3 separate regions of the Homo sapiens genome follow, and all the other regions are linked to region 1. Evidence: fine-mapped expression QTL. A gene starts in region 1. Each other region holds a variant in brackets. All regions are shown on one strand. Distances are between the middles of the regions.

Region 1 (8,172 bases):
AAGCACAAGCAGCAGAGGCGTGGTGAAGCCCATCAGAGCCAGGGCCTCTCGGACACGGTGCAGCTTCATGCTGACAGCCTCGTGGAGGTCCATGGCTACCTGGGACAGGCTCCGAGAGGCATTGAGATCCACAGAGAAGTGGTGGGTGGCTGTCATGTTGAACTCAAACTCCTGACGCACCCGGTTGAGCAACTGAATCACGGCTGGGGCCAGCAGGTTCAGGGGAGACGTGGGCAAGGAGAGTTAGGAGAGGGTGGAGCTGCCCCTGGGGAGGGGCCTGGCACAGCCCAGGGGGCGCAGCTTACAGACCAGCTGGGAACCCCCCAGTGCTTGGGTCAAGGTGGACTGAGGAGGGGACAAAGCCTCCACGTATCTGTGCCATCGCCATCACATGCTCAGCACCCAGCATGACACAGGGCATGCAACAGATGCCCCTAAGGAATGATCTTGATGACCTGAGTGTGGACCTGAATGTGGACAGGAGGCCCTGGTTCTGTTCCCAGCTCCTGCTCTCAGGGCAGGCTGTGGTGAGGCACTGGCCCTTCGCTGGACCCGTTTCCTGATCTGTACAGCATGGATATGGGCCTGGGTGATCACTTGAGCCCCTTTCTTTCTCTTACATTCTCCTTTATGGGCTGGGAGCACTGGGGGCTGGCCATGGCCACACCGGGATGAGGGAGGGAGACCACTAGGGAGCACCATATGTGGCAGGAGGGGGTCACTCACGGGTGCCGATGGTCTGGCGCAAGAAGGGTTGAATGTACTTAGGGATGACGCAGAACACCTGGACCACTGAGGGGCGGAGTCGGCTGAGTGTCGGAAGGAGGGGCACAGCCAGGCCTGCCCCCGACCTCTGGAGACCTCTTCTCACAGGGCCTCTTTTCGATTTTCCTATTGGCCTCCACATTTGCTCAAAACCTTGTAGCACCTCCCTGTCGCCCTTCTCTCCCAACACCAGTCCCTCCCTACTGCCCACCCCCACCCCCAATACTGGTCCTACCAAGCTTATTGGTTCCTCTCTGTTGCCCTCTAATCGTCCTCCTGAGCCTGCCCTCCCAACTGACCCCCACATTCCCACCCCACCCCACCCCACATCGGCTCCTCCCCGCTGGCAGACCCTGGTTTTCTCACGGCTGGCAAGTCCACAGAGCGCCAGTTTGAAGGGCATGAGCACGTAACACAGGTGGTAGGCTTGTGGTATGACCATCATGCAGCTGTCCTTGGCATCATCGAAAACCCGTGCACACTTCAGGTAAGGGTTGCCCAGTTCCGAGTTGCACACATCGCCGATGTGCAGGAGCCACTGCCACACATTCCGGAGAGCCCTGGCTGGGGACAGCTGCAGGGTTGGCACCCAGGGCTGGAATCCTACAGCCTCTTCTCAGGGTTTTGGGGAACAATACCACAGTATCCAGGGCTGGAGAGGCCTGTGGTCAGGGACCTGGCTGTGCTGTGTCCAGTGAACACTAGCCAGCGCCCAGAAGGGGCCCAAAAAACCCTGGACAGGGTACAGGTGAGGAGACTGAATTTTTTTGTTTCTGTTTGTTTGTTTTGTTTTGTTTTGTTTTGAGATGGAGTTTCGCTCTTGTTGCCCAGGCTAGAGTGCAGTGGAGTGATCTCGGCTCATTGCAACCTCCGCCTCCTGGGTTCAAGAGATTCTCCTGCCTCAGCCTCCTGAGTAGCTGGGACTACAGCTGCGTGCCACCACGCCCGGCTAACTTTTTGTATTTTTAGTAGAGACGGGGTTTCACGATGTCAGCCAGGATGGTCTTGATCTCCTGACCTCCTGATCCACCGCCTCAGCCTCCCAAAGTGCTGGGATTACAGGTGTGAGCCACCGCACCTGGCCCCCCCGCTTTTTTTTTTCTTTAGAGATGGAGTCTCACACTGTCACCCAGGCTGGATTGGAGTACAGTGGCACGATCATAGCTCACTGCAGCCTCAAACCCCTGGGTTCAAGAGATCCTTCCACCATAGCCTCCCCAGTAGCTGGGACTACAGACATGTGTCATTACATCTGGCTAGTTTTATTTATTTTCTATTTTTTTATTTTTTATAGAGACAGGGTCTCGCCATGTTGCCAAGGCTGGTCTCAAACTCCTGGGCTCAAGTGATTCTCCCACCTCGGCCTCGCAAAGTGCTGGGATTACAGGCATGAGCCACCGCACCCGGCCAGGACTGGGTGCATTTTGAGTCCCCGGGATAGACATGCTAATGTGCTTACCTATGTGTTTCACACCATCCATGATTGACCGAAAGAACTTGCGGACCCGGTCAGCCACCTCTTTGGTCTTCCGGGCAATAGCTTTAATCTTGTTCAGGGCACCTGATGGGTGAGGGACAGAGGCACTTTGGAGTCTTCTCCTCTAGGGGCTGGTTCTCACCATTGCCCCTTAAGCAGGGAGTAGAGAGGAGGCCACCATTTCCAGAGGCGGGAAGCCTGGATTCTGGGGCCTGGGAGATCGTTAATCTGGGAGTGGAGGAGGCCAGAGAGCAAGGAGAGAGGGTTTAGCTGTGCCCAGAGTCCCTTCCAGGCCCAGATGCTCCGCGATTAGCACCAGCAGAGAAGGAGGCCAAAGGACTGTAGAACATGCAGGATGAGGGGGGCGAGGGGGGCCCGTGGGAGACAGTGGTAGAGGTGGGGGACTTACTGACAAGAGGTTGCTTGGCCCTCTGTAGCACTTCGGCGGTCTGGTTCAGGGCCAGCTCTGCCCCACAGGCTACAGCCTCGCTGGCCCGGGTGAAGTTGCGTAGAGTGTTGGCACAAGGCCCTTGAAGCACCAACCCAAAAGCAGCCACCAACAGTAGTGTCCGGCCCTGCCCTGGGGGCGACAGCTTTGTTAGAACCAAGACCCCAGCCCCAAACATGGCAGCAAGTCCCTTACATAAGCCTTCAGAATATTTCCCTTAACCCCTGCCTCTCCTCCAGCATCTCTTCTGCCCCAGCACCAGCCCCAGGACCTGCCCCCTAGCCCTGGGTGCCAAGCTCACTGGAGAAGGCCTGAGGCAGCAGCAGGAGGACAGTGGCTCGGACCTGGCGAGAGAATCCCATGCCCAGGCTAAGGAAGGCAGCCAAAGTGAGGGTGCCCACCAGGCAACCCCAGGGGCTGTGGCCTTCCACCAGTAGCTCCAGAAGCCCGTAGGCCGTGGCTAAAGACAAGCCCAGGGTAAAACCTCCCACGCTGCGAACCACAGCTCTCGCCATGCTAGGCTCCTCTCCCCCCAAGGGGTGCACAACATCCTTCATGACTTTGGGCATGGCTGCTGAGACCAAATGTCTGCCTGTCTCCAGGAGATGCCCGCTGACTTCTGTGCTCCTGGAATTTCTCACCGTATTCTAAGGTTCCAAAGGGCTTTCACTGCATATGTCTTGGAATCCTTGACCCAGTTCCGAGGACTGGAGAGGGGATAGGTAGGTCTCTAATCTCCTTCCCCACTTCTCGGAGCAGAAGGATTAAAAGGCCCAGAGCTCAGGCCTAGGCTTCCCATGAAGCGGAAGAGACAGGCAGCACCTCTCTTCTCTCACCAGAACCTTGTGTCCAAGGAGGTCCTTCAGGAGACCTGGGATGAGTGGTGCTTCCCCAAAACAGACTCATGGACATTAAACATCATCAGAATGGCACAAGAGGGCAAAGAAGAAAACAGCCTCATACCAGTGAGTCACTCAGCAGAGACCCAGTATCCCTTGACCTCCACTCTCATCCCATCTCTCCTCCTGGAACTCCTGCACACTATCCCCCAACTCGGTGTCCGCGCCTCCACCACCTCTCTGGTCTAGTGCCTCCCGCCTCCCAGCCCAGCCCTTGCCTTTGCTGTCCCTTACACCCATACCACTTCCTCAGGCTCCCTCATCCTCCTCCAGGGTCCCCTAAGTTCCTACTGTTTCACATGCCAGGTTTCCCCAGCCTCTATCCACCTGCAAGCCCTGAATCCTAATGAGCCCCATCCCAGGCAGAAGAGTGGGCTGTTGAGCTACCCTGTCCCCCTCTTAGCGGTGCAGAGGCTCCTGACCTGGGGGCTGCCAGTCTCCTGTAGCTGGTTCCTGTGGCGCCAGCCGGGCGAGTTTCCTGTCACTGCTCTCCTGCTGGGGGCAGGCGCTGGGGGGCTCCTGGCCATAGGTGAGTGTGGAAGCAGAAAGTTCGGGGTGGGCAGAGGCTGGACCAGGGCTAGGACCCATCTTTTGGCCTTTGGCTTGACCTTGTGCCCTTAGGTCTCTTTCAGCTCCTGGTGAACCCCATGAACATCTACGAAGAACAGAAGATTATGTTCTTGTACAGCTTGGTGGGTTAGTGCTGGGCAAAAGCCAGGAACACTCAAGCGGCCTGTGGAACACAGCGCCGTCCTGCATGCCCAGGAAGGAGTCGGGACTTGTTTCTTCTGTACCCATACATCCCCTGTGGCTTCCGCCTCCTCCTGGGCTTTACGGGGAGGTCCAGAGGGAAGAGGCTGCCAATTTAAGAAGGAAGACACCGTCCTTGCCCTGAGGGAGTCTCTCCATTCCGAGGGACTCCCCATCACCCACATGATATAGTCCAACCCCATAACCCTTCATAACTCTCATCTCTCCTGACCTGTCTGACCTCGTTTTCTGATCCTCCTAAGAAATTAAATTCATTCATTCATTCATTCATTCACTCAGCACTTACTGAGAATCTGCTGAGGATTTAGCAGTAAACAAGGATGACAAGCATCCAGCCGTTTTGCTTTGGTTTTGTTTGTATGTTTTTGTTTTCGTTTTGAGACGGAGTCTCGCTCTGTTGCCCAGGCTGGAGTGCAGTGGCTCAATCTCAGCTCACTGCAACCTCCACCTCCCAGGTTCAAGCCATTCTCCTGCTCAGCCTCCCAAGTAGCTGGGATTACAGGCACCCATCACCATGCCCAGCTAATTTTTGTATTTTTAGTAGAGACGGGGTTTCTGTATGTTGGCCAGGCAGGTCTCGAACTTCTGACCTCAAAAGATCTACCTGCCTCGGCCTCCCAAAGTTCTGGGATTACAGGTGTAAGCCACCGTGCCCAGCCCAGTTTGGATAATTTAACAGCTCAGTAGCTTCGAGAAGGACTCAGGTTCCTTCTGTCTTTTCTCTGCCATCTTCAGTCTATTGACCACTTCTCTTCAGGTCACAAGATAGCTGCAGCAACTCTGGCATCACATCTTCATACAATAATATCAAAGATCAGAAAAAAATAAAAAAAGAGGAAGAAACAGGCCAGGCACAATGGCTCACGCCTGTAATCCCAGCACTTTGGGAGGCTGAGGCGGGTGGATCACCTGAGGTCAGGAGTTTGAGACCAGCCTGGCCAACATGGTGAAACCCTGTCTCCACTAAAAATACAAAAATTAGCCGGATGTGGTGGTGCACACCTGTAGTCCCAGCTTCTTGGGAGGCTGAGGCAGGAGGCTTGCTTGAACCCAGGAGGCAGAGATTGCAGTGAGTGGAGATCGTGCCACTGCACTCCAGCCTGGGTGACAAGAGCGAAAGGCCATCTCAAAAAAAAGAAAAGAATAGAAGTTCAATCCCAGGCCCAACTTCACTGTCTTGGGCTGTGCGATTTGAGGCCAGGGAAAAAGGAAAATGACCTAGGTGACAGAGTGAAACTCTGTCTCAAAAAAAAAAAAAAAAAAAAAAAAGGAAGAAACATCCTTTCCTCATGTCTCTTTTTAGGAACAAGGGAAACTTGCCTATAATCCCCACAGTAGACTTCCTCACATCTCTTTGGTCAGAACTGCGTGCAACACATGCCCTTTCCTGAACCTGTCCCAGGCAAGGGAAATAGAATTAGCATTTCATCACCTGTTTATTGAATTAATCCTGCTGGATACCAACAGGAGACTACTTTTTCTCTGACCCACTGTATTCAAACATGTTTTTTCCCATTGATAACCTTTCACACAGCCCCTTAGATTTCTGGTTGTATTTCTTTAGAAGACCTAGTCCTACTTCAACAATTAAGACTTATTTTTAGGGGTTAAAGAGGTCCAGTCCACTCTACATCAGACTTTTAACCTCATCCATTCTCAAGCATCTTCCCTCCTTATCTTGCCCTCCCCATCCCTTGCGCCCCCAGCTCAGGCCTGCTCCCTAGCATGGGGTCCTGCAATGGAGAAGGGGCGTGGCCTGCTCTTTCCCTTTTTTCCTCTACTTCCTTCCCTTTCTGGTTCTTCTGATGTCAGAAGGGAGATTAGAAGAATTAGAGGAAAAGGGACAAAAGTCTTAAGTCACTAATGCTATTATAATTCCACTGTGGATGCCTGCGTGTAGCAGGCACTCACACCCTGGCTGTCCCAGTAGGCCTGATTATTGTCCCCTTGGAGGCTGTGTGTGGACCTCGGCAATGCCCGGTTTCTTGCAGAGGGCAGTTCTTTTTGGCTGACCTCGAGTGAAGCCCCCCTTCAGGGGCCACCCACAGCCTCTTGCTTTTTGGATCCCTCCCTCCAGCAGGCTGGGAGTGCACACGTCCGTGCCCTGCCAGGCAGAGAAAGCAGTGCACCTTCCTTTTTGTGGAGAATGGGGTCTCGCTATATTGCCCAGGCAGGTCTCAAACCCCTGGGCTCAAGCTATCCTCCCGCCTCTGCCTCCCTAAGAGCTGGGATTACAGGCGTGAGCCACCAACGCCCCATCAAAAGCAGAGCACCTTATGGTTGCCTCTCTCCTGCCCTGATGAGAAGCAGATGCCAGTCTCCATGCTTGTGTGCCAACATCGTCCAGGGGAGGTCTACAGAGGCATTACAGAGGCTGAGCTCTCCCAGGAGCTCTCCCTCCACTCTGTGCTCTGGTGGGAGCCCTGGAGTGGCCTCATGAGGCTCTGCACTCAGCAGGAGTCTAGTCTACAGAGACCAGGCAGGTTCCCCTTCCTGCAGCGCCAGTCCCTGAAGCCTCTTGGACTCCTGGAGTCTCTCACTTGACATGTGACACCCATCCTCTCCACAGACTCTCCCTCTCTGCCTGCCCATTCCAACCACTTTTCTCCCCTTCCAGGAAATCCACATTGTTGGTCTTTTTTTTTTTTTTTTTTTTTTTAAGACAGAGTCTTGCTCTGTCCCCCAGGCTGGAATGCAGTGGCACGATCTCAGCTCACTGCAATCTCCGCCTCCCGGGTTCAAGCAATTCTCCTGCCTCAAACTCCTGAGTAGCTGGGACTACAGGCACCTGCCACCATGCCTGGCTAAATTTTATATTTTTAGTTGAGACAGCCATGTTGGCCAGGCTGGTCTCAAACTCCTGACCTCAAGTGATCCACCCGCCTTGGCCTCCCAAAGTGCTGGGATTATAGGCGTGAGCCACCATGCCTGGCCCATATTGCTGTTCTTTTTATATAGATGGGGTGGGATAGAGGAGTGAGAGTCAAGTTTTGCTGTTTTGGTGAGCCCAAAGAAGACACCCATAGCTCCATGGGGCTCTCATTAGAACATAGGGCAACTATTTGTCAACTATTAGCCTCAGCTCGAGTCTTTGGCCAGAAGGCCAAGACCACAGAACTAGTCCCTTTCAGTGTCCTGTTCTACCATGACTGGTTTAGACAGATCCAGATTTATCCCTCAGGGGCTGGGGCAGGGCCAGGCTATTGCCCTTGCAAAAAACCCAAGTTGTGTTAGCAAGGAAGAAGGCACAAAAAAAACTGTGGGGTGGCACCCGACAGGGTTTGCCACAAACCTGAATGACTAGGTGGAGCCAGCCATGTGAAGAACAGGGAGAGGAGTGCTCCTGGCAGGGGGAACAGCTAGGGCAAAGACCAGAGAGGAGGAATGAGCTTGGCTTGTCCAAGGAGCAGCAACGAGGTCTGTGTGGGTAGACATGGTGGGTGAAGGGCTGCATAGCATGAGATCAGGAGGCAGGCAGGAGCCAGATCACAAGCTAGGTAGACCATGTTAGGGAGTTCGGATTTTATACCAAATGTGGTAGAAAGCCACCGAATGGTTTGAAGCAGGGAAGGGACATGATCCGATTTATGCTTTTGCAAGATCACTCTGGCTGCCTTGTAAAAACTGAAGTGTAAGGTAGCAAGAGAGGACATAGGGAGACTCATCAGGTTATAGTCCCAGTAAGAGATGATGGGGACTCTACCACGACAGTGGAGATGGAGGAAGTGTAAGGATTTGGGATTTGCTTTGACGATCATTGGGTGAACATTCCATCAACACAGGAATCTTCTAGCTCCCCCGACCAGCTTATA
Region 2 (8,154 bases), 24 kb after region 1:
AGGAGGCAGAGGTTTCAGTGGGCCGAGATCGAGCCACTACACACCAGCCTGGGTGAAAGAGTGAGACCTCGTCTCAAAAAATAAAATAAAAATAAAATAAAATAAAATCTAGCTGAGACAGATTAGGTGGTTTGCCCGAGGCCCTACAACTAATAAATGGCCTATCCATTTATTAGTTGTATTTGGCTCTTCATCTGTCTTATGATCCCATTTGCAGAGAGCTCTCACTTGGTTATAGATAATACATAGTTACCAATGATGAAGCAATATAAACCCAATTTCCTAATTTGTAAAATGAAGATAATAAAACTACTTGCTGCATAGAGTTGCTGGGAAGATTAAATAAGTCCATATAGATGTAAAGTGCTTAAAACTATGCCAGACCTATGGTAAGTGACAAGAGTTGTTATTGGGATTTTTAAAAATTATTATTATTATTATTATTATTTGAGACAGAGTCTCGCTCTGTCTCCCAGGCTGGAGTGCAGTGGCATGATCTCGGCTCACTGCAAGCTCCGCCTCCCAGGTTCACGCCATTCTCTTGCCTCAGCCTCCCGAGTAGCTGGGACTACAGGCGCCCGCCACTACACCCGGCTAATGTTTTGTATTTTTTAGTACAGACAGGGTTTCACCGTGTTATCCAGGATGGTCTCGATCTCCTGACCTCATGATCCACCCGCCTTGTCCTCCCAAAGTGCTGAGATTACAGGCGTGAGCCACCGCACCCAGCTAAATTACTGTTTTTTAAAAATTTGAAAAAAACCACTGAGTTTGGAGCCAGAAAAGCAGGGGTCTACTCCAACCTTCATTATCTACTTCCTGGTCCTCCTTGGCAAGTTCCTGGGCCCTCTGGCCTTCAGTGGCTCATCTGTAAAATGGGCTCTTCACCCTCCTATTTGACCCACAGAGTAGGAGTGGCTGCCTCTTGGTCAGCCCGGCACAGCTGCTGGCTGCGAGCGGCAGGTTTGCCTGATAATTCTTCTTGTCCATAGTAGAGGCGGGATGTGGTAACAGAGACCAAGACTGTGGAGTTGGTGATTGTGGCTGATCACTCGGAGGTGAGCCTGCTGGCCCCTGCACATCCTCCTCCCCCTGCACTGCCCTGCCGCCTTTCATGTCACCTCTCTTGGCCTACAGGCCCAGAAATACCGGGACTTCCAGCACCTGCTAAACCGCACACTGGAAGTGGCCCTCTTGCTGGACACAGTGAGTGCTGGACAGGGCAACCCCCACCCCAGGCCCCTGACCATGGCAACCCCTCTTCTGAGCCCCAGCTGTCTTTCAGTTCTTCCGGCCCCTGAATGTACGAGTGGCACTAGTGGGCCTGGAGGCCTGGACCCAGCGTGACCTGGTGGAGATCAGCCCAAACCCAGCTGTCACCCTCGAAAACTTCCTCCACTGGCGCAGGGCACATTTGCTGCCTCGATTGCCCCATGACAGTGCCCAGCTGGTGACGTAAGGGCCCCAGACTCAGCCAGAGAGGCCAGTCCTGTCCTGGCCAAATTCACACCCCTTCAGCACCCTACCTCAGCCCCTGAAGCTCTGACCACCGTGGCTTCTGGCCCTGAACTTTAGCCTCTCTGTCCCACAGTGGTACTTCATTCTCTGGGCCTACGGTGGGCATGGCCATTCAGAACTCCATCTGTTCTCCTGACTTCTCAGGAGGTGTGAACATGGTGAGTTATTTCCAGGTCTCCTCCTCATTCCCAATTCAGTTCCTCCCAAGTGTGGTGGCATTTATGCACTGAAACCCCCCTATAAAGTTGCCCAACCCCAAAGCTACAGGTATAGAGGGTGGAGGTACGTGATGTGGCCTTTGCTATCAGGGAGCCCTCGCTTATGGCCAGCTAGTCACAGTGTACACAGTCATCCCCTGTGCAGTCTTCCCATTTCTTAGAGGAGGGTAGGAGGCAGCTAAGGCCCAAAGAACAGAGGTGATCTCCCTCCAGTGAGGGAGGGGGACAGAGCTGAGCTAGAACCCAAGTTTCTGCCATCCAGGCCTGGGTTCTCCTACTTTAGAAGCAATTCAGGAGGGAAGCAGTGCCTGCTGAGTGCCCACGAGGTCAGACGTGGAGGGAACAGGAGCAGAGAGGGTGGTCTGGGCATTGTGGTGGAGGCAGGCTGGGACTGGACCTACAGTACCCCTCCCCAATGACAGGACCACTCCACCAGCATCCTGGGAGTCGCCTCCTCCATAGCCCATGAGTTGGGCCACAGCCTGGGCCTGGACCATGATTTGCCTGGGAATAGCTGCCCCTGTCCAGGTCCAGCCCCAGCCAAGACCTGCATCATGGAGGCCTCCACAGAGTAAGTAGCTGCAGGATGGAGAGAGGGTGTGGGGCAGGGGGCAGGGAGAGGCCCCCAGCCCCAACCTTCCTTGCCACCCTCCCCAGCTTCCTACCAGGCCTGAACTTCAGCAACTGCAGCCGACGGGCCCTGGAGAAAGCCCTCCTGGATGGAATGGGCAGCTGCCTCTTCGAACGGCTGCCTAGCCTACCCCCTATGGCTGCTTTCTGCGGAAATATGTTTGTGGAGCCGGGCGAGCAGTGTGACTGTGGCTTCCTGGATGTGAGCCCCTTTCCCAAAGCCTCGCCCCACTCACTTCTGTACCCTCACCCTGGCTCATTAGCCCTATCCCAGCCTCCTGAGCTCTTGGGTTCTGAAGGGACTTTCCACCCCTCTCCTACTTGCCCTGTCTGTGGGGACAGCACATGGGTTGTTGGGCTCTAGCCCTCGCTTGCTGTGTAGCTTCTGGTCTTGGCCTGTGGGAGGAGGAGAGATTGGAGGGAGGCTCACAGGCCCCACCTGCTCTGATGCCCGGCCCCCGTGCTCCTGCCCACAGGACTGCGTCGATCCCTGCTGTGATTCTTTGACCTGCCAGCTGAGGCCAGGTGCACAGTGTGCATCTGACGGACCCTGTTGTCAAAATTGCCAGGTGGGTAGAGACTAGACTGGCCACCCGGAGCTCACCTGCCGGGGCCAAGGTGGAAAGGGTCATTCTGACCCCCGGCTGGATTTGCTCAGTGCCCACACTGATGCTCATCCACCCTCCACAGCTGCGCCCGTCTGGCTGGCAGTGTCGTCCTACCAGAGGGGATTGTGACTTGCCTGAATTCTGCCCAGGAGACAGCTCCCAGTGTCCCCCTGATGTCAGCCTAGGGGATGGCGAGCCCTGCGCTGGCGGGCAAGCTGTGTGCATGCACGGGCGTTGTGCCTCCTATGCCCAGCAGTGCCAGTCACTTTGGGGACCTGGAGCCCAGCCCGCTGCGCCACTTTGCCTCCAGACAGCTAATACTCGGGGAAATGCTTTTGGGAGCTGTGGGCGCAACCCCAGTGGCAGTTATGTGTCCTGCACCCCTAGGTAAGTGAGGAAACCTGGCTCCTCCTTTGGGTTTCTGAGAGCCTTGGCCCTGCTCCTACTAACTCTGTGTGCCCTTCCCCCTCCCCACAGAGATGCCATTTGTGGGCAGCTCCAGTGCCAGACAGGTAGGACCCAGCCTCTGCTGGGCTCCATCCGGGATCTACTCTGGGAGACAATAGATGTGAATGGGACTGAGCTGAACTGCAGCTGGGTGCACCTGGACCTGGGCAGTGATGTGGCCCAGCCCCTCCTGACTCTGCCTGGCACAGCCTGTGGCCCTGGCCTGGTGAGCAGCCTGGGTGGGCAAGACCAGGTGTGAGAAGGGACATTTGGACCACAATGAACAGAGCCCAGACTTCACCATTCACCAATGTCAAAGGCAGGGACTCCAAGGGAAGTCAGTTTCTTACTTCAGATGGAGCAAAGTCCTATCAACTCACTATGCCTTGGTTTCCCCATCTGTAAACGCAGGGTATGGCCTCAACCTTATTGGCCTCCCAGTCCCATTAAAGCTTTGTGGGAATCTGATCCAGGCTCTTCTCTCCCTGGGTCAGGTGTGTATAGACCATCGATGCCAGCGTGTGGATCTCCTGGGGGCACAGGAATGTCGAAGCAAATGCCATGGACATGGGGTGAGCTGGGATGGGGGAAGTGGAAGGGGAGCAGAGAGCCTCTAGAGAGGAAAAGGATACTGGGCTTTGGAAATAGACATATCTGGGTTTTAATCCTTGCTCTACTACTTCC[C/T]AGTTGTGTGACCTCGGGCAGGTTACTAACTTTGCTGAGCTCAGTTTCCCCACCTATCAAATGGCTATAATAATAGTATCCCCATCCAGGGTACATGAGATGAGTATGAAAGCATCTAGCACAGGCTGGGCACAATGGCTCATGCCTATAATCACAGTTTTTTTGTTTGTTTGTTTGTTTTGTTTTGAGACAGAGTCTCGCTCTGTTGCCTAGGCTGGAGTGCGCTGGCGTGATCTCGGCTCACTGCAACCTCTGCCTCCCAGGCTCAAACATTACTCATGTCTCAGCCTCCCTACTCGCTGGGATTACAGTCACCCGCCACCATGCCCAGCTAATTTTTGTATTTTCAGTAGAGATGGGTTTCACCATGTTGGCCAGGCTAGTCTTGAACTTCTGACCTCAAGTGATCCTCCCGCCTCAGCCTCCCAAAGTGCTGGGATTATAGGGGTGAGCCACTGCACCCAGCCAAATCACAGTACTTTGGGAGGCCAAGGCAGGAGGATTACTTGAGGCCAGGAGTTCAAAACCAGCCTGGTCAACATAGTGAGACCCCCATCTCTTTCAAGGAAAAATTTAAAAATTATTCAGGCCTGCTGGTGCACACCTATGCTCCCAGCTACTTGGGAGGCTGAGGCAGGAGGACTGCTTGAGCCCAGGAGTTTGGGGCTGCAGTGAGCCATAATTGCACCACTGCACTCCAGCCTGGGCAACAGAGTGAGACTCCATCTTACTTGCTGTCTAAAATAAAATAAAATAAAACAAAACAAAACAAACACAAAGAAAGAAAGCATGTACCACAGTGCCCAGCACACAGAAGGAGCTCAGTAAGTGTTAGTTTGATCTAATTTGCTCTGGTATGGATAAAGACCCTCCCTCCGGGCTGTCTCTACACACATACCCAGCACAACCCCCAGTTGTAGAAATCTGAGATCTTGAAAAGCTAGAGACAAGGAAATAGTTCCAGAGTGCAGAGCTCCTCATTGCTCGCCTTGTACCTCCTAGGTCTGTGACAGCAACAGGCACTGCTACTGTGAGGAGGGCTGGGCACCCCCTGACTGCACCACTCAGCTCAAAGGTAGCATGGGGGTGGGGGACAGGGGCAGCTGGGAGGGCAAAGCGTCTCATGCTTTATCTTGCCCCCTCGGCCCTCTCTTTCTGACCCCCCTTTGCTGCTGGTTCCCTGAGTCTGTGCCCCTTGAACCCTTCACTCTCCCTGATCACTTGACTTCACTCCCTGCCCCCTGCGCCTTCATGGATCTAGAGTTCTTAGCCCCGTCCTCCCTTAAACCTGACTTCCGCCCACAGCAACCAGCTCCCTGACCACAGGGCTGCTCCTCAGCCTCCTGGTCTTATTGGTCCTGGTGATGCTTGGTGCCAGCTACTGGTACCGTGCCCGCCTGCACCAGCGACTCTGCCAGCTCAAGGGACCCACCTGCCAGTACAGGTATGAGCATCACCTCCCTGCTACCACTTCCTTCAACTGGGGACAGTGCTGAAGGCTGCCTCACCTCTGCAGCCCCTGCCACCTGGTTCTGAGCCCCAGGCCCCTTGGACCTTAAAGTTGCTGACTGCCATACCCCACACCTCCCTTCCCTATATGTGCCCACAGCTTTTTACCTCACAGCTGTGCCCCTGTGGGGTGGCTGGATTGCTAGGGCCATTTCTCCCCAGGAGCCCCTGTGCTGGATAAGTAGGGTCTTCCCTCAAGCTAATAAATACTGCCCCCCACCCCGGCCCTACCACAATTTTACCTAAACCACACATAAGTGCCTGCAAAGGGTTAACCCCACTCAGGGATGGCATATGGTAGAAAACAGGGTCTGAGGCTGGGCCCTCTCCCTTCTTGCCTTTCCTCATGCATAGGGCAGCCCAATCTGGTCCCTCTGAACGGCCAGGACCTCCGCAGAGGGCCCTGCTGGCACGAGGCACTAAGGTGAGTCCTGGATGCCAGAGGAAGGGGACTCCACCTTGGCCGGGCATCCAGCTTGGGCCCTGGGGGGTGCGCATTAAAGGCTCCAGACTCAGAGAAAGGCTAGCACTGCCCAAGAGTCAGTCGAAGGAGTCAGGGCCAGCCCTGCCCTCCCCTCCCCTGGCTACAGGCAGGGAAGCTGAGTCCAGAAGAGTGGGGAGGGCAGCCAGCTGGAGCAGGAGCTGCTGGGCTCCGTCCGCTGGCCAAGAGGTGGCTTTGAGAGGTGGATCTATCCATGCCCCCAGCAGTGACCCCAGGAGGGCACAAGGGCAGTGGTGCTCAGAATGGCCTTCCGTAGGCCCAGGTCACCATGTTAGAAGGGCTGGTGAGCATCCCCACCCTGAGCCCTCTGCTTGGATGATGGGAGTGTGTGCACACCTCCTCCCCACTCGCTCCCCACCTGCATGCACCTGCATAACTGCATGCACAGCACCCACTGCCCTGGGCCCCTGCTGGCCCCCCCTGGGCACTGACCCTTCCCTGCCCACTCTGTCTCTCTGCTTCCTCTTCCCCCTCTGTGCCTATCTGCCCCTCCTGCCCTCTCAGCAGGCTAGTGCTCTCAGCTTCCCGGCCCCCCCTTCCAGGCCGCTGCCGCCTGACCCTGTGTCCAAGAGACTCCAGGTAAATCTGGGCCAGGGCCCGCCCTGAGCCAAGGCAGGTGGGAGGCTTGGTACCCAACTGCAGTTCTCATCCCTGCTCCCTGCCAGTGGTGCTCTTCATTAGGTGATCGGGGTGCCCCTCAGCCTTCAGACACTCTGAGCCCCAGAAGCAGCAAAGGGTGAGCCTCCTGCCTTGGTTTCTACCACCATCTGGTGGTCAATGGCGGGACTGCAGTCGGCCAGGGACTGCGGTTGACCTACACCTTCCTCCCCTGAGACATCAGCTGGCATGCCTCCAAGCCCTCTGCGCATGCCCTCATTCTCTCCTGCCCCCTGGCTGACTTTGCATGTTGACTTGAACCCCTCTGGGGAATCTCTGTGCATGTCCACAGCCCCTGGTTATGCTCTCACAGCCACTGCCCCTCTCTCTGTTCAGGCTGAGCTGGCTGACCGACCCAATCCCCCTACCCGCCCTCTGCCCGCTGACCCGGTGGTGAGAAGCCCGAAGGTAACGGTGGGGGGAGAGAAGGGCACGGCCTCTCCCCCCACCTAGGGCTGTGGTGCTGGTAGCCATGACGGTGGTGGCCGTGGCGAGATGCCCCCTCAGTGCATGAGGGCACATATCCCGGTGGTGCCTTTAATGGTGACAGGTTTGTTTGCAGACAAGGGTGACCGCTGGTGCTGCCCCCAAGCTGGTGTTCCCCAGCACCAGTGCGTTGGGGGTGGGCAACATGACACCCCCCCACCTAAGCCGGCCTCCTGCCTTCTCTCCCTCAGTCTCAGGGGCCAGCCAAGCCCCCACCCCCAAGGAAGCCACTGCCTGCCGACCCCCAGGGCCGGTGCCCATCGGGTGACCTGCCCGGCCCAGGGGCTGGAATCCCGCCCCTAGTGGTACCCTCCAGGTAGGAGGAGCCCTGGGCATGGGTGGGCGGGGCGAGTGACCTGGGGGAAAGGGGCCTCTGACTCTTTTTTCTTGGCTTCCCGCAATCCAGACCAGCGCCACCGCCTCCGACAGTGTCCTCGCTCTACCTCTGACCTCTCCGGAGGTTCCGCTGCCTCCAAGCCGGACTTAGGGCTTCAAGAGGCGGGCGTGCCCTCTGGAGTCCCCTACCATGACTGAAGGCGCCAGAGACTGGCGGTGTCTTAAGACTCCGGGCACCGCCACGCGCTGTCAAGCAACACTCTGCGGACCTGCCGGCGTAGTTGCAGCGGGGGCTTGGGGAGGGGCTGGGGGTTGGACGGGATTGAGGAAGGTCCGCACAGCCTGTCTCTGCTCAGTTGCAATAAACGTGACATCTTGGGAGCGTTCCCCAGAGTTTGTCTGCTTCTAGAACCCGGGTCGCTCCTGCTGCGGTTCCAGGTTTGGCCGCCAGAAGACGCTGCCGCCTCAGACGAGGGCGGGCTGTGTGGGGCGGGAGTACCAGAAAGGGTCGGCGTGTGTCCCCGGGATGCTCGCAGCTTCCCTCTGCCCAGACTGGGGT
Region 3 (8,139 bases), 160 kb before region 1:
ATAAATATTGTTCAAATGTTAGTTGGGGAAAACAAAAGAGAAGCTGCTGAGGAAGAACTGGCCTCTCCAAAGCAGGGTGTGTGAAGTGGACCATGGCTCCAGCCCCTTCCCTAACAGCTGGGTGTGTAGTCACAGGGGGATCTGGCAGGAAGACTGAAGATTCCCCCATGGTCATTCCCTGCCTGATTTGCCCCATGGGGCTCTGAGAGTCAGAACTAGGAACAGCTGCTGGCTTCCCAGGTTCAGAACCATCATCATCAAGTATTTATTAAGCCCCCACTGTGTGCAGAGGGGGTTCCAAAGGATGGGACCAGAGCTGAATTCATTTTCATTTCTAACCACAGCAGCCTTAGGAATCAGAAAGGAAGTCACCATGAGGGAATTCCCCAGAACACCTGGGGTTTTAAAAGGCAGGCCTCTTCCTCTCTGGCTCTTGATTCCCCATCACCCTTTGGCCTCTGTCCAGCTCCCTCCCTCGATGGGAAGAGGAAAGGGTAGGAGATCCATGCACACATACACAGACACACATCCAGAAAACATGTAAGCAGGTGGACATATGTGCACATGTGTACATGGTTGTGTGCACACACTAGCCCATGCATGCACACATGCACACATATACACATAGGAAGCTCCTAAAACAGCATTCCTGACTGGTAAGCAGCAAGTGTCCAGATCAGGGAGGGACAGAGCCCCCCCAAAATGAGCCCAGAGTCCCCTCTGTATATCAGTTCTCACCTCTCCAATCCCCCATTAACCCTGATGATTGAGAGCTAAATATTACTTGTAATACAAGCCACGACCCCAGATACGTGACAATTACTCTTGCACAATAATCTTGATTCTGGCCAGGCATGGTGGCTCATGCCTATAATCCCAGCACTTTGGGAGCCCAAGGCAGGAGGGTTGATTGAAGTCAGGAGTTCGAGACCAGCCTGGACAACATAGCAAGACCCAGACTCTACAAAATTTTTTAAATTAGCTGGACATGGTGGCGAGTGCCTGTAGTCCAGCTACCCAGGAGGCTGAGGGAGGAGGACTGCTTGAGCCCAAGAGTTTGAGGCTGCAGTGAGCTGTGATAGCGCCACTGCACTTCAACCTGGGCGACAGAGTGTTACCCTGTCTCTAAATATATATATATATAAAATAATAATCTTGATATCAATGACATAATCATTTCCCCTACCCCTGCCAACACACACACACACACACACACACACACACACACACACACACACACACACACTAGAAGTCACAGTACCAGGCCTCAGATGCAAGCCTGGGGTCTCATGTGTTTTCCCATGACCAAGCCCTCTAGAACCCACCCCCAACCCCTTCAGCATCCTCTGCCTTCCCTGCCCTTCCCTTCTGTATTCTTGATTTCCCTCCCTCTCCTCCATCCGCAGACAGAGCCACCTGCTTGGTTCAAGGCTCCAGATCGCATACTTAGGTTTAATGATCCTCTAATAAATTATCATGAATATGTTGTTAGTAGCAAAAATGTGCTGTTCGTGTTGGTTTTTTAGTGTTGGATACAGTTTTCTGGGCTGTGAAAAATCAATTTTGGAGAACAGGCTCCAGGCCTGGGTATTCCTATGCTCACTCTACCCCCATGAGCTGCCTTCTGCCTCAGCTAACCTTTCTGGCCAGCCTCTTGCCTCCAGTTCTTCTGGCTGTGCCAATGGGATCCAAATGGGGCCTATCAGAGCACGTCCTGCCATCATGGATAAGGATGAAAGATAGCTTGGGTAGAGCCCTAACTATGCCAGCACCAAAGATCAGTGGTTATCTGGAAATGGGCTGGAACTTGACAGCTGATGCCACGGAGCCAGCTCATGCCCCTTGTTACAGCTATCCTGTCATGAACAGGAGGAGGAGGACAATGTCATGTTTAGAGCTTGGGCTCAAGTGTCAGACTGCCCAGGCTGGAACCGTTCTCTGCTGCAGGGATGGCTGTGTGACCACAGGCAAGATGACCTTCTGATCATCCATACACATCTCTTCCTAACTCCACAGTGATGTCACATTAGCAGCTTGAAATCAGCCATGATCAGAGTATTTACACCACAGAAATCGGCTAACACTGTAAATTAGAGCTTATGTTTTCCTGGAAGCCGCTTGCTAAATCTTTCCTGGCTGTTCAACATTTATCAGCATATTACTGCCTCCTATATCATTACATACAGGCTGTGCGCTCCACCCTCTGCCTTCCTTCTCACCAGCACAAGCTTTGCCACTCGCCCACTTTGTGACCAGTTGCTTATGTTCTCAGGCCTTCAATTTCCTTAGTCCAATGAGAGCACCGGCCAAGTACTTTGTAACTGTCAAGCACCGACAGGTTAGTGAATCAGCTGGGAGCTCTCAACCACAGGGCCTGATCATGTCAGGTTTTCCACGTTGCCCTCCAGATGCACCGCACTCAGGCGTCTTCCCGCTGTTGCTGCCTGTCCAAAGCCCCACTGTTGAAAAGCCCCCAATGCTTCCCTTGGCCCCCAGCCACAACCATGTCTTCACAGCAGCCTGTGAGTTGAGGCCATCACCCATTTTATAGATGAAAAAACTGAGGCATTAAAAAGATTTTAAAACTTGCCCAGAGTTACTAATTAGTAACTAGCCATAAAGCTGGAATCAAACCCAGGCCTGTCCAACCTTTTGACAAACCCTCGCCATATGTCCTGAAACCCAAATTTAAAGGATTCATTCTTACTGGTGTTTATTAAACATTACCATGTGACTCACACACCCAACCCTCAGGAACTTAAAGTCTCACTGTAGAGACAAGTTATACTTACATGGGGTGACAAAAAACAGCAATGCAGATCCCAAAGTGTGGGCGAGACAGTAGAGTTCATTGAAGGCAGAGGGTTGTCAAGGGTGGCTTCCTGGAGGTGGTGGGACTTAAGCCACACCTTAAGGAATGGGGAGCAACTCCTTATGCTGCCCTAAGATGACAGGCTGACAAATTAGGCCTCTTTAGTCTGCAAACGGGGGTGTGGAGGAGCTTCTTACCTCAGAGAGACAGGAAGAGCAGACAAGGAAAGTAGGGGTGGCCTTTGGCCATACTGGCTCCACATCAAGTGTACTGGCACTCGGTTTCTGCCCTCCTTTCCAGGCTCATTCCTCACCACCTTCCTCCTTAAGCCCCAGCATCACCGACCTATTGTAGCTCTCCCGTAAGTCATGCTATTTCACATCTCCATGCCCTCTGCCTGGCATGCCCTTCCCCCAGATTTCCATCTAACACATTTCTCTTTGCCTTTCAAGACATGGCTCAAAGGTCTTCTTTCTGAGAAGCTTCCCCTGAACTCCCCAAACCCAAATCAGGAGCTCCTTCTGTATTTTCAGTGCCCTGTGCTAACAGGGCCTCTACGGAGCAACACAGCTGTTATCTCCATATGTGTCCTTTGCCCATAGACCATGACCTCCTTGAGGGCAGGGATGATGTCTTCTTCACAGCTGTACTGCAGCTCTTCCGAAGAGCCGCTTACAATAGATGCTTAGTAAAGATTAATCGAACTGACTAAACTTGAAACCTGGATGAGGTCATTTGAAGGCAAGTAAGGGAAAGTCACAGTACTTTTCACAACAAATCATAAACACAATTTCCTCATCCGTAAAATAGTGAGATAAAAAAGATGATTTCTAAGATCACTCAGCTTTAAAATTCCATAATCTATTGTCTGTAGACCTTGTTATCCCCAAAAGGTAGAACTAACTGAAAATAGGTTTAAGAAAAGTAGTGGTTCATGGTTTATATGGCTGTCTTTCCCACAGGCTGTGACCTGCATAAAAGGGCTCTAAATTTTTTCAGTATCCCCAACACTGATCACGGTGCCTGGCTATGAATTACTCATTAAAGATTTATTGGTCGGACCTGGTGGCTCACGCCTGTAATCCCAGCACTTTGGGAGGCCGATCACAAGGTCAAGAGTTCAAGACCAGCCTGGCCAACATGGTGAAACCCCGTCTCTACTAAAAAAAAACATACAAAAATTAGCTGGGCGTGGTGGCGAGCGCCTGTAATCCCAGCTACTCAGGAGGCTGAGGCAGGAGAATTGCTTGAACCCAGGAGGCGGAGGTTGCAATGAGCCAAGACCATACCACTGCACTCCAGCCTAGGCAACAGAGCAAGACTCCATCACAAAAAAAAAAAAAGATTTATTAGACAGATGGATAGTAGGATGGATGGACAGATGGA[C/T]GTGTGGATGGGTGGATAGGTGGGTGGATGGATGGATGGATGAACGGACGGATGAATGGGAGGATAGATGGGTGGATGTATGGATGTATGGATGATGGATGGATGGATGGAGGGAGTTTAGACACAAATGACAGATAATGGCAGGTTTTCTAGAAAAGCCAGTGGTGTTGGAGGGATACCCTTAACCTGGTAAGGATAGGGTCATAAAGATTAACCACCCCCTTTCTCAGACTCTGAATGGTTGGACAGCTTTAGGCTGAACAGCTCATTAGCCCATGTGGGTTCAGTCATTACTGTGTTCTTATCTAGGAGCTTCATTACTGGATTAATTAATGCTCCAATAATAAAAACAAATCCTGTGTTTGCAGAGCACTTTATAGTTTTCCAACTGCTTTTATGTAAAATATTTCATTTGCAACTCTTGGCAGCCCTGGAAGGCTGGCTGGGGAGGTTCTATTGCCTCATCGTTGCCACTCTTACTCCCATGAACTAGAGTTTAGAAAGGTTTCAGTAGTTTGCTCAAGGTCACCAGTTAGGCATGGATTTGAACCTGGGTCTGTCTGTGCTCTTTCCCATCCATTCTGCCTGGAAAGCCCTTCCAGCCCACCTCTTGCTCTGTGTCCTGTCCTGTGAGAATTTAGGGAGCAGCACAAGTGCCACCCCTGCCCAGAGCTTTCCCTGACCTCCCCTCCTCTCCTCCCTCAATTTGACATTATCTCCCTCTTCCGAATTCCCTTGGCACTTTATTGTATCTCTCTGGGGACACTGTTCACCTCTTGCTTTGTACTGGTGTTGTCTATAGATATATGTCTTCTCTCCCCTGATTTTATCATATATATATACAGAGAGAGAGAGAGAGAATCTGTTGCCCAGGCTGGAGTGCAGTGACGCGATCTCAGTCTTGGCTCACTGCAACCTCCGCCTCCCAGGTTCAAGCGATTCTCATGCCTCAGCCTCCCGGGCAGCTGGGATTGCAGGCGCCCGCCACCACGCCTGGCTAATTTCCCTGATTTTAATTGACACCATAAGCTCCTTGGTGACAGGAGCTTATGGTATAAATTGGAAAACACACACACACACAAAACACTGCACTTCACGCTGCACCCAAATTGTGTGTTGAATACATAAGCAGGTAAGAGGGTGAGTGAGTTTAGCCTGACTGAGAGTTTGGGCACTTTGACCCAGGACACATTACTTGCCCCTTACTTGCCCGGCTGGCCACCAGGAATGCCAACTGGTAAGTGTAGGCCTTCTGTCCACACTTCTTTCCTGAGAGTCCCTGGATGTCTAGACCCTGGGTGAAGCCTCTTATAATGAATGCCCACCTAACCCCTGCCCCTGCAAGCCATGATCTGAGGAGCAAGGTAGGACTACAGCATGTCACCTGTCCCCTGGCCACGCACCAACAACTCTCAGCCACCTATGGGTGCCAAGGAGTCTTCAGCTTCACACAGGCTCCTCCCCATACTCTGCTTTGCTAAAGAAAAACTGGAGCTCTTTTGCATCATCTGAGTGTCAAGGTAAAGGGGACATACGGCCTGACTCCCTACACTTGGAGCATTTACTGAGGGCCAACTGTGGGCATTCATGGTTCCAACACGCCAGGGAGTAAAGTTAGTATGCCCATTCTATAGATGAAGAAACTGAGTCAAATTTCAGAGAAGGTTAACTGGCCTGCTCTTGTTCACAGTGGGAGGGGAGAGTCCAAGCCATGAGCCACACAGGTCTATGCGCTCTGAGAGGTCACAACCTCTCCACTCAGCCTCTGCTACTGAACTTCATTGCTTTCCAGAGAAAGTATCCCTCCTGCCCACCACTCCCACCCAGGTCCTCCATGAAACCCCCTCTAACAACAGGAGTGGGAAAAGGTTTCAAAAGAGCAGCTCCATGGAGATCTGTCTGGACAAAGGTTGGTGATTCTGCTTCTAAAACTCTGCAGAGGCCAGGATGGCCCTAACATGGAGAGAAGACAGTGGAGTGGCCAGGCCAGGCCAGGCACCAGAGCAGTCTTGGGCTGGGAATCGGTCCATCTGATTCCGAGTTGCCATTTTCCTGCCAGGGACCATGACGAGCAAGGTGCGCCCCTCTGAGCCTGTGAAACTGGGATCGTTCACACCTCCTGCACAGTTGTCTTGTGAAAACTGAGATACATTTTAAAATGTGTCTCCTGACCCCTTCTCTGAGGCTTTGGTGTAGGAACTTGTTGTTCTAACCAGATGAGTCAGTCCGGATGGGAACGTTTATTTACTTGAGGGAGTCAAAGGTCGAATGGAAGGTGCTGATACCGTGTCTGGAAAGAAGGCATGGGAAATGGGCACAGGTTGCCAACATTCTGTCACCAAGATGCCTGCCGGGCTCACAGGGAGCCAGTGGAGGTGCATACTTTGCACACGGTGAAGTGCTGCCGACGTGCACTGGCCAGTACAAGAGAGGGGTCTGTGCAGACCCCTGACTGACAAGGGCTCAGCATGGAAGCCTCGGCCCCAGAGTCTGGGTAGGTCCACTGTCTGCATGGGGCCGACTCGGTAGAGAGAGCCATCACTTGCCATCCTGGGTGCGTGTGTCCTGCCCAGCCCCACACTGTGGTGTAGGTGATGACACCCACCCCCACTGGAGACTTGGCTCCACAGGGTGGGATTTGCGTCTATTTTATTCACTGCTATAACCCCAGTGCCCAAAACAGGGCCTGTCATAGAGCATGTTCTCAATTCAGATTTGCTGAATAAATCAGCTTCCTGGCCCCAGTCTCAAACGACTCACAGAAAATAAAAACTCTAACAGTTTCCGGGGAGAGGGGAGAGATACCATTAGGAGATATACCTAATGCTAAATGACGAATTAATGGGTGCAGCACACCAACATGGCACATGTATACATATGTAACAAACCTGCACGTTGTACACATGTACCCTAAAACTTAAAGTATAATAATAATTTAAAAAAAAAAAAACTCTAACAGTTTCCCAAATGCAGAACAGGCACCTGAGCAGCAGCCCAAGGGAGGGCCCAGACCGGAGCAGCCATGGATTCCTAGCAGGGAAGAAGGCGGCCAGTGTCTCGTGGGCCTGGATGGATGTCTCTCCCACAGGGAGGGCAGTGAGGGACGAGCAGGGCCGGCTGGCAGTTGAGGCCACAGCCCCCTGAGCCAGCCCCTCCCTGGACCCCAGGTGGCCAGTAGCAGATCCCCGCCCCGCCCTGGCTCTGAGATTGCGGTCCGAGCTGGTCAGTGCTCACCCATGGGGATGGGGGCAGAGCAACCTGTGGCGGGTTTGTGAGGAGTGTGGCGGCCTCTGCTGGTGGCGTATGCACATAGCTTCGCACTCCAGGCACCTTGGGAGATGCGAGGGAGCCCCCAGACAGCATCTGAACCCCGGCCTCAGCTTTCTGCTTCCTTCCATGGAGGCCCAGGGACTGGATCTGGTGCCAGAATCAACTTCTGTGAATATTTTGCAAAAGTCGCTCTTATTTCCCAGGCTTCCTTGGGTTTTTTCACCATTGGGGAAGAAGAAACCATCTGTTGTCTGTCCCGGGTGAGGGCACCATAAAGCCTTTGAATGAGAGGGCTGGACAGGATGCCAGAGGCGCCTCCAGGCCCACCACCCTATTAGCAAGAGAAGACCTCCGGAGATGGGAGGGGACTTGCCTGTACTCATTCGTGAGTCAGGCACAAAGCCGGGACTCGAGCCCGGCCTCCGCGATGGTCCCCTTCAACTGGTCCATCATCTCTCGGTTGCTATGGGGCATCCACCAACACAGCTCCACTCCCGGTTGCTGCTGTGAAACGAGGGAAGAAGCCCCCTCTCCCCTCAGCACAGCCACCAGGCACAGTCAGGAGCTGCAACCTGGGTGCCCAGCCCTCTGACAGGAATCCTGCAGAAGGCCAGGCCCCTCTCCTGCCTCCCGCCCTTGTTTTGCCTCCCTTCGCTCCTGGGAAAGGTGGC

Which allele goes with the higher level. Alleles are on the strand shown, and positions count from the first base shown. SD is a standard deviation of normalised expression in the study named. Not every link is listed here.
With allele C in place of T in region 2, the expression in esophagus muscle of the gene that starts at base 3,382 in region 1 is higher (small effect, 0.32 SD a copy in GTEx).

The links. PIP is the estimated chance that this variant, and not a neighbour inherited with it, causes the effect.
Region 2: its variant is fine-mapped to the expression of DCST1 in esophagus muscle (GTEx, PIP 0.93).
Region 3: its variant is fine-mapped to the expression of DCST1 in whole blood (TOPMed, PIP above 0.99).

Annotation. Positions count from the first base shown.
Region 1 is chr1:155,030,443-155,038,614 of GRCh38, forward strand. DCST1 (DC-STAMP domain containing 1) reads left to right here and starts at 3,382. Exons shown (of 17, transcript NM_152494.4): 1 at 3,382-3,412; 2 at 3,530-3,655; 3 at 3,993-4,118; 4 at 4,211-4,285. The coding sequence starts at 3,595. DCST2 (DC-STAMP domain containing 2) reads right to left here and starts at 3,339. Exons shown (of 15, transcript NM_144622.3): 1 at 2,992-3,339; 2 at 2,652-2,822; 3 at 2,225-2,326; 4 at 1,132-1,329; 5 at 727-792; 6 at 1-203. The coding sequence starts at 3,259.
Region 2 is chr1:155,054,795-155,062,948 of GRCh38, forward strand. ADAM15 (ADAM metallopeptidase domain 15) reads left to right here. Exons shown (of 23, transcript NM_207197.3): 7 at 996-1,058; 8 at 1,138-1,206; 9 at 1,286-1,455; 10 at 1,592-1,676; 11 at 2,159-2,307; 12 at 2,394-2,568; 13 at 2,843-2,935; 14 at 3,057-3,361; 15 at 3,452-3,647; 16 at 3,916-3,993; 17 at 5,108-5,180; 18 at 5,411-5,549; 19 at 5,969-6,038; 20 at 6,621-6,695; 3 more. The coding sequence ends at 7,708. The region is part of intron 1 of DCST1-AS1 (DCST1 antisense RNA 1); the gene reads right to left. It overlaps ADAM15-EFNA4 (ADAM15-EFNA4 readthrough), which reads left to right. Exons shown (of 26, transcript NR_176418.1): 7 at 996-1,058; 8 at 1,138-1,206; 9 at 1,286-1,455; 10 at 1,592-1,676; 11 at 2,159-2,307; 12 at 2,394-2,568; 13 at 2,843-2,935; 14 at 3,057-3,361; 15 at 3,452-3,647; 16 at 3,916-3,993; 17 at 5,108-5,180; 18 at 5,411-5,549; 19 at 5,969-6,038; 20 at 7,451-7,575; 1 more. Among named protein-coding and RNA genes, the nearest start is that of EFNA4, 4.9 kb to the right of the region's middle. RefSeq lists an enhancer at 1,943-2,753. The variant C/T (reference allele first, on the strand shown) is at 4,106.
Region 3 is chr1:154,871,184-154,879,322 of GRCh38, forward strand. No RefSeq gene overlaps it. Among named protein-coding and RNA genes, the nearest start is that of KCNN3, 5.0 kb to the left of the region's middle. RefSeq lists enhancers at 6,143-6,728, 7,314-7,898, 7,698-7,747. The variant C/T (reference allele first, on the strand shown) is at 4,199.